Regions from separate parts of the Homo sapiens genome. Here region 2 is linked to region 1. Evidence: fine-mapped expression QTL. A gene starts in region 1. The other region holds a variant in brackets. All regions are shown on one strand. Distances are between the middles of the regions. Region 1 holds the start of TMC3 (transmembrane channel like 3). Region 2 overlaps TMC3 (transmembrane channel like 3).

Evidence for each region. PIP is the estimated chance that this variant, and not a neighbour inherited with it, causes the effect. A credible set is the group of variants that fine-mapping cannot tell apart.
Region 2: its variant is the best candidate, but not a certain one, in a credible set for the expression of TMC3 in nasal epithelium (TOPMed, PIP 0.86).

Annotation. Positions count from the first base shown.
Region 1 is chr15:81,371,848-81,376,244 of GRCh38, reverse strand. It overlaps TMC3 (transmembrane channel like 3), which reads left to right and starts at 2,032. Exons shown (of 22, transcript NM_001080532.3): 1 at 2,032-2,256; 2 at 3,508-3,654. The coding sequence starts at 2,168. All of the region lies in intron 5 of TMC3-AS1 (TMC3 antisense RNA 1), which reads right to left.
Region 2 is chr15:81,332,799-81,337,195 of GRCh38, reverse strand. TMC3 (transmembrane channel like 3) reads left to right here. Exons shown (of 22, transcript NM_001080532.3): 20 at 545-587; 21 at 2,221-2,476; 22 at 3,934-4,397. The region is part of intron 2 of TMC3-AS1 (TMC3 antisense RNA 1); the gene reads right to left. Among named protein-coding and RNA genes, the nearest start is that of TMC3-AS1, 11 kb to the right of the region's middle. The variant C/T (reference allele first, on the strand shown) is at 2,090.

The DNA.
Region 1 (4,397 bases):
CTGATCCCATTTATTTGGACTTGATGGTTCCTGGGTGGCTACCCTCAAGTTCTGTGTTCAAATAAACTCTATTCTTAATCTCTGAATTAATTTTCTGAATCTCATTATTTAAGGTTGACACTTATCTCACCTATAGTGCCAGAGAGAATTACCTGAATGAATATGAAATTTTAAAAAGATTGATTTTGCTCTAATTTGTTTTTAATAAATCCCTGTGTACTGCAAAATTTGCTACCTTTCCTTACCTCCCCTTACAATATACATGTATATGTAACATCAAAAGGAAACAAAAACACTCAAAATACTTGAGTGAGATTAATATAAAATATTTTAAATTTTTGAGTAAATATTTCAAAATAAGGCAGGGGGGCTTTAGAAAAAGTAGGACGAAAAAAATCTTTGAAATGTTCAGGAATGATTGAGATAAGTAAAGATCTCTGAAAGAATGCAAAAAATCCCAGTGGGGCTAGCAGTAATTCTATTGTATAAGCCATTTGTCCATTTGATAAGCACACATTTTATCTAATGTTACCAGATAGAGCATCAGGCCAAATGGCCTCAAGCAAATTGGCAGACAGATGACCTGGTCCCAGAGGCTCCGGATCCATCTCTGACCCAAGGCCAGCTCTGGCACTCAGCCTTCCACTTCGTTCCCATGCTTTCAGCGCTAGGTCTGAACACTTGCCTGATGGTCCTGAACCCCTGGGCTAGGGCTCTTGCTTACATTTGCCAGTTCAGTGTGTGGTAAGATCTTTCCAATTATTTGCTAATGAATTAGTGGAGGATTGAATGGACAAATGAATGAAGTTTCTCTCCGAAGCCCCACATCTGAACTTGCTGATGGATTTTCTTTCTGCTCCGTTGTCTGGTGTCCACTTCAGTTATTTATTCACCCATTTATTGAGTCTTTAGTGTGCAGTGGGTAATGTTCAATAGAAAGAGTCATGTCTACTCCAGTCCTGCACCTTCCCATTCTGTTACTACAAAGGTGCAATTTACCTCACTGCAGTCAAACCATTTCTTGTGTTAAGTAGCAAATAGAGGTTTACACTGTGAAACCAGGCAAGTCTTGGACTTGGGAATGAGGTTCTTGGAACAGAATCCCAATGCATGGCTAACAGTGAGAGTCTGCAGGTGACAAAGGAACCGGGCTCCATTCTGCTGATGGCTGGGGAAGGGGAGGAGAAGCTGCTGACCTTTGCTGAAGGACTAGGATGAACTACTCATCCCATTTTACAGCAGGCAACCTATTTTCAGAACATTGAGGTGAGAGTCTAATCTCTATCAAAGTCTTCCTTTCTTACCAAATGCTATAGGAAGTCTCTTTATTTCTTTTAGCCTCAGTCTCAGAGTCATAGTGCTCATTAATGTGACCATGTATGGTAAAGGTAAAATGTAATAAGATGTTAATTTGATTATTATTAATATCATGCTGAAGTACTTGGGGTTGATGTATCATTATTTCTGCAATCTACTTTCAAATGGTGTGTGGTGGGGGAAGGATACAGACAGAAATAAAGCAATTGTGGCAAAATGTGGCAATTGGTAAATCTAGGTTAAGAGTGTACAGATATTCCTGGTACTGTTCCATCAGCATTTCTAAGGATTTGACTTTTTTCAAAATAGAAACTAAGTTGAGAAAAAACTAAATAAGAAAAAATAAAATGTGATGGCTGTGCCTCTCCTCAACTCCACTGTATGAACACAAGCAAGGTCCTTACTGTCTCTAAGCCTCTTCGTTGAGAGTAAAAAACTGGGGAAATTAAGCCTTGCCTTTTATACTCCCTCAGTGTTTTGTGAACACCAGTCATGGTCACAGATGTAAAGTGTTTTGCAAACCATCCAGGACTGTCAGGGCATAAGGGGTTAACGGATGTGATCATTTGTACAGCACCAAGCGATGTGTAGATCACCGGGCCAAACCCTTGGCTGTCTAGACTCCAGCCAATCTGTGTGCCTCAGCCACCTTAACATTACATATGCATGACTGGCCTCCTGGATTCTTCCCTGCTCAGAGCACCAGCTGCAAGCACACAGTCTTCTTCCTGAGAACTAGCGGGCAGAGCAAACTCCGCTGCTTCCATTCAGAAACCTCGGAACAGACCTTTGCCTGCCAACTTCCTAGCTCTCTGGCCAGCTTCTGATTGTTAGCAGTGGGTTAGCTCCCATGAAAACCTCGAAGGCATCCCAGCGCTATAGAGGCATCCGGAGAAATGCCAGCCAGTGCTACCTCTACCAGGAATCTCTGCTGCTCAGGTGAGCTGGCCCCATTCATCAGCTGGGCAGAGGAGTCAGGTGTGTGAGGAAGGAATGCATGGGTCACCAGAGCGAGGGACAAAGTCCCTGTCCTGCTCAGTTGTCCTTCAGAATGAACTCAGAAACTCACTTCTCCAGGTTGTGGTACAACTAGGATGGCAACCTCAGCAACGGGCATGGGGGGAAATGGTTCTTCTGGCTGCTTCTTGACCAGGAGGTCAGAATCCAAAAGCTTGCATCCCAACCTGGCTTTATGGCTGGCCAAACCCACAGATATGTTTCCCTGTTTTCTCTATGTTCACTCAATCAGCAATGTCAAGAGAGAGCAGATAATATGTCTATCATGATAAATAAAGTGTTTATTGGAAAAGCCTTCAGGCTAGTTAGAAGTGGATGAGAGTGCTATTCGAATTTGTTAAATATTTATAAAGGTCTAGTACAGCTGCCATTTAATTTGGTGAAATTGAAAAAAATTCTCCTCTAAATGAGTAAAAACAACATGAATTAGAGAATAACAAACGAAATCTTTTATTTCTAATAGTCATAGATGAATACTCTTAACTCCTCTCAAAATGTTGCATTAGGATAAGCATATTAAGTGTAACTGGGAGTAAATGTTGCTACATGTTGGAAAATTGTTCCTCTTGAGAGTATCTATTTCCTGAAATATCTCACCCATGTAAATTTGCTTAGCTAATCTTTCGCTCGTAGAAATTGCTTTGCCTGGCTCTGCCTCGGTTATCTCAGGCTTAAAATGAATTGACGTGAAAGGGTGAAGAGGGGTTTCTGAGTGGCAGAAGTTTTGATTTATGTTACCTTCAAGTAACATAAGGAGTCCTGCCTCTAAAATTAGCTGATTATTTCAATGAGCCTGAAAAAGAAATTATTTTGCCTACCCAAATTGCTGCTACTCAGGAATCCAAGAGTACGTAAATACCCTCTTGTCTCATCTTGTGTTTTCTGATAATATCATGCACCCTGAGAAATCATTATCTTCTAATGACCCAGTGGAAGTAATTGAATCCAATAAATGTGTTTCAACAGGCTACTGACACTGGCAAATTATCTGTTTCTGTGGGTCCCTCACTTTACACACACACACACACACACACACACACGCACAAACACATACACATTTCATACAGATGACCCTAGGGCAGTGAGATGCTGAACTTGTGCCCAGGGCAAGATGATCTTTGCTGGAAGCAATTCTTCTAATCAGATTTCCTCCTTAATGCCCTGATCATTCAGCAACTTGGATGACAGCTTTAGTGCTGATGAAACAGGGGACAGCAATGATCCGGAACAAATCTTCCAGAATATACAGTTCCAGAAAGATCTCATGGCAAACATTCGCTGCAGACCCTGGACTATGGGACAGAAGCTGAGGGCATTGAGGTAAGGGCCTCAATGGCCATTATTGATCATTACAAGCATGCTTTCCGATAAACCACCTTGCCTTGCCCATGGGAACGAGGATAAAGACTCATGTGAGAGAGATGGCTCAGTCACTCTTGACCTGAATTAGCAAAGTCACAAAGATATCTGAGAGGTCTAGCTGGTCCAGAAGCCAGTTCCTCTGTGTGTGTGTGTGTGTGTGTGTGTGTGTGTGTGTGTGTGTGTGTGTGTGTGTGTGTGTCAGAGAGACAGATACAGAGAAAGAGAGAGTATAAAGAGTTGTGTGTCTGTGTTGGGGGTGTGTGTGTTGGTGGAGAGTCTTTTATCTTCTACCTCCTTTCTAAACACTAGATTTTAATATTCTCTCCAAGCTCGTCTCGCTCACTAGAAACAGAGCAGTAAGCCAATATGAAAAGAGATACTCATTTTAGCTGCTTGGATATTACCACCCTCTGGGTAAAAAAATAATTAAAAAAAAAAAGACTTTATAGGAAGCCAGATTATTATGATACTTAGAGTCATATTAAATAGTCTGTCTATATAATAAAGTGCTAAAGATTTAAAAATAGATTCCCTGATTCAAATACTGCCTTTACCAATTTCTATCTATGTGATATTAATTTTCTTAATTTCTCTGAATACCAGTTCTTTTCTTTTTTAAAGTTGAAGCGATGGTGAGGAATAGCCCTTAACTTCCTGCAGCACGTTTCCAAAAATGTCAACCACTAAGCTCTCTGGATATT
Region 2 (4,397 bases), 39 kb after region 1:
GTAATGCTGATTCTGTCCTTTCACAGCCCTGAAAATAAGTGCCTCCTTAAATTTGGCACCCCAGATGCCTCACTGACCTCACCCATGCAAAAAAACTCCTTCCACTTCTATCAGAAAAAAAAAAAAACTTCCCATGAACATCAATTCATGCAAAGAAACACAAATTAGCTTCTAATTGGAAATTCATTTGGAGTTACAAAGGCCATTTTGGTGGAAACATACATCTCCAGTGTTGTCGATCTGTATTTTTTTCTTTGTGATTCAGGCAAACTATTATGGACAGAATCTAAACATGGTCTGTTAATTAGCTGTCCCTAAATAAAACTGGCTAGGCATAAAACTTCAGCTCTCAGGTATCTGCATTTATTCACTCAAATAACAGGCCCGAGCCCAGAGCATACCGTCCATAGGGGGCAATAGTAGTACAGTTATGGTCCAAGGTAAGAACTATGGCATGTAAATCTTTTTCTCTTCCCCCAGGAATAATATTTGTTACTGCTTCCTGCTAAAGCCAAAACAAACATGCATATCATTTGCATTTTAGGCAAGATCAGAGGATAAGAAAAAGGTTGCCCAGATGGTAGAAGGTAAGTATTTCCGTTTCTTTTTGTTGTTGTTTTTTTGTTTTGAGGCAGAGTCTTGCTCTGTCGCCCAGGCTGGAGTGCAGTGGTGTGATCTCGGCTCACTGCAACCTCCACCTTCCCGGTTCAAGTGATTCTCCTGCCTCAGCCTCCTGAGTAGCTGGGATTACAGGTGCGTGCCATCACACCTGGCTAATTTTTATATTTTCACCATGTTGGTCAGCCTGGTCTCAAACTCCTGACCTCATGATCCACCCACCTTGGCCTCCCAAAGTGCTGGGGAGAGCTAGCCCCTAGAGCTAGCTCTAGGTGTGAGCCACTGCACCTGTCCTAATATTTTTTTTAAATGCAGAGATCTGCTGTCTCAGTTAGTGGGCATTTAAAAATACAGCCATTTAAAGTAGTTTGCGGTATACTACCAATACAAATTCCTGATAACCTGTGTTTTTTCACCAGTAACTATGCACAATAAAATAAAATCTAGGGATATAAATGTTGTTTTAAATCTTTAATTTTTATATCATATCCAGGCCCATGAATAATCCCAAAACATGTGTAAAATCAGAAGGAAGTATCGAAGTAGGAGAGGAAAAGCAGCACATTCACGTGGATGAAAGCCCAAAGAATCTCTTTGTCTGGGTCACTTTTGTATACTTCCTCTCCATGGCCCATCTCTTCCTTGCAATGTTCCCTCCCAGGTCCCTTCCCTGAGCCTCCTTAGGTTCTGTCCTGTCCCTGCAGAGCAGGGAGAATGGAAGCATGTGGCGTAGAAGTCTGCTGTGGCCTGAAGGGAAGAAAGTGGGCAACGGCAGCTCGAAGGAGATGGATCTGTTTCTCAGGACCACTAACAGAGTGCTGTGAGCTAGAAGGCTCACTGGGCACCATTAACATGGCACAGCCTACATGAATGAGAATGGGACCCAGAAGGGCTTTAGGGGCTAGCTCTCACAGCTGTTGCAATACTTCACTAATTGGAAGGGAAATATTCCTCTCCAGAAAAATGTCTGAGCAAGACCTCTAAGGCCTAAGGATTATGCTTGCTTGCTCCATCAGCTTTTCAGAGAGAAGCCTACAATTGATAATGATTACTGAAAGTGACTGTGGCTCACGCCATAAAATGCCTCTGTAATCGTCATCGCTTATTTGCCAATTAAGCGTAATTAAATTTAGTTCAGGTCACCTTCAAAAGCCAGAATCCACATAGACTGTTTCAGGATAACAATAGCATTGTCCAGTGTTCATTTTCCAGCTCGAGACCACATCTTTTTTCAGAATGCATGTGAACTGTTTCCAAAGAATCATAATTGTTGTGTAAGCTTTATTATCTCCATTGAATAGATAAGGAACTGGAGGCCCAAAGCTGTTAAGTACTTGCTTTGCCTCATGGGAGCATCAGATGGAGCACTGTAAAGCCTTGTGTTCACTTGATTCCTCCTACACTCCCAGCTCCAACTTGCAGGGATGAAATCATTTGAATTACAGAATGTTTGTTGCCCACTGGTTAGGTG[C/T]ATTTGTAAGTGCACTCAATTGTTTGCGGACCAACTCTTGGATGTCATAAAACCCTTGCAACTCAACTCATCTGAAGTTGTCACCTGCTCAGTGACACCTGTCTTCTCACAACACCTCCCTCTCCCTGCAGCCCGAATCCAGACCCAGGAAGAAAGCACCAAGAAGCTTCCAAACGACAGTGATCTTACCAGCCAGCTGTCCTCAGCGCACTCGGGCACACCCCAAAACAACGGCAACGTGGCCCATTTTGACTCAGGGAGCAGCAAGAGTGGCAGGATAGAGACAGTCGCACAGTCCATGCCCCAGAGCCCGAGGCCAGGGGACAGGGCTCCTAGCTCACCTCTCCCTGGGGTCCCCAAATCCAGGCTAGAGCATGAAACTAACAGGTGAGGCTCCACTGCAGCACAGATTAAAACCTGGAATGTGAGAGATTTGAAGGCCTCTGCAGCTTCAGGAGGCCAAGGCCATTAAATTCTAATTCTCCCAGAAGGCATGGGTCAGGAGACTATGACAGCTGGTACTAAAAAGAAATGGAGGCGGGGTGGGGGTGTCAAAGTTTATCAAACAGGACAAATTCTTCCTCCTAGGTTATCTGCCATTTAACTTGTAAGCAAACCTTCCAGCCAACCTAGGATAAACATTTGTCTAGGCTAAGAAAATAACTGTTTATTTTTTAGTTCCACAGTGGCCATATTATTGGCAAGATCTTCCATATTTTAGCCCTAGTCTGGTCAAGTTATTGGCAAGACCATTTATGCATTACATGGGGTCAAAGAAAGCAGTAGATCCCTTCCTACTTTAATGGAGGTAGGACCCCTGGAAAGATGAAGGGGATAGACCTGCGGTGGCCCAAACTCATATGGAGAATTATATTTGATCTGAATGTAGCACAGCGAAAGCAATATAGATAAAATACAGGGGCTCTCTTTTTTAAAGATAATGACTAAGTTAGCAAAGAACTTGAAGTCTTGTTATATAAGGAGTTGTCTGCCTGTCTCTGTGGGGTCTTGACAAGGAGAAAGGGTTCAAACACTCCTTGAGAGGCCCCTAGGGGTCAAACTACAGCCACCATACAGATTCAAGTCTTTATCAGGAAGAACTTTTTTTTTTTTTTGAGACTAGGGTTTTGCTCTTGTCACCCAGGCTGGAGTGCAGTGGTGCAATCTCGACCCACTGCAACCTCCACCTCCCAGGTTCAAGCAATTCTCCTGCCTCAGCCTCCCGAGTAGCTGGGATTACAGGCACCTGCCACCACACCCGGCTATTTTTTTGTATTTTCAATAGAGACCAGGTTTCACCATGTTGGCCAGGCTGGTCTCAAACTCCTGACCTTAAGTGATCCACCTGCCTTGGCCTCCCAAAGCGCTGGGATTACAAATGTGAACCACCGTACCTGGCCAGGGAAGAACTGTTTAATATGTACAACTCCCCTCCACCCACCAGTGGAAACTCAGAGAAGTGCTTGAGAAGTCAGACAGCTGCTTAGCAGAAAGGATGAGAAACTGTGTTCCTAACATGTGCTTCACAGACACTAGTCCCACTATGTGCCTCTTGACACAAAGAGGGCTCTGTGAGGAAATACACTAGCATAACACCCCTCGCTCTGCAGTCTTCATGGAGACTCATGTGTACATCACTGATTTAGGTTCTGAAAATTCCAGCAGTAAAGAAAACTGTTTAGCCCTGTCCCCCAAATGTCTCTGTGCACACAATCCATACCCATTAACCAGTTGGAACCAGCCTCAGTGAAAATGCTCAGAGAACTGCTCACAGCTCACAGTCCTCAGGTGTGGGGCTCTGAGACCACCAAGGCCACAGCTACTTAACCGCCCCTGTCTTACAGGTATCTGCACGGTCTGTGTGCAAGCACCAGTGACCTTCACAGGAACAGATCGCGCACACCTATGACATTTACAACGCACATCGAAGATGTACACTCAGAACCTCTTTTCCGAAAAGACTTTCAGCAAATCAACCCTCCTCACCGTGGACCACAGGCCTCGACTTTGCTGGCACAGGGTCCCAGGCCCCACGCCCCCAGATACTATGTCATTAATGAATGTGACTCTTACAAGAAAAAACATCTAAATGTCTGGCCAGAAAGACATTTCAAGATAGATGCTTCAGGTGACATTGTGGAGCTGTACCCCAGGAACGTGCGACAATATGCATCCCGGGTCCCCCGCCAGCCTCCCTCCCCACAGCTGAGTGAAGAAGAGGAGGAGACGCCAAGCAGAGATTGGATCAAACGGTCTCTTCCCCCACGCTCCCTGATAGACCTCCGTCGGGCTCCTCATTTTTATATTG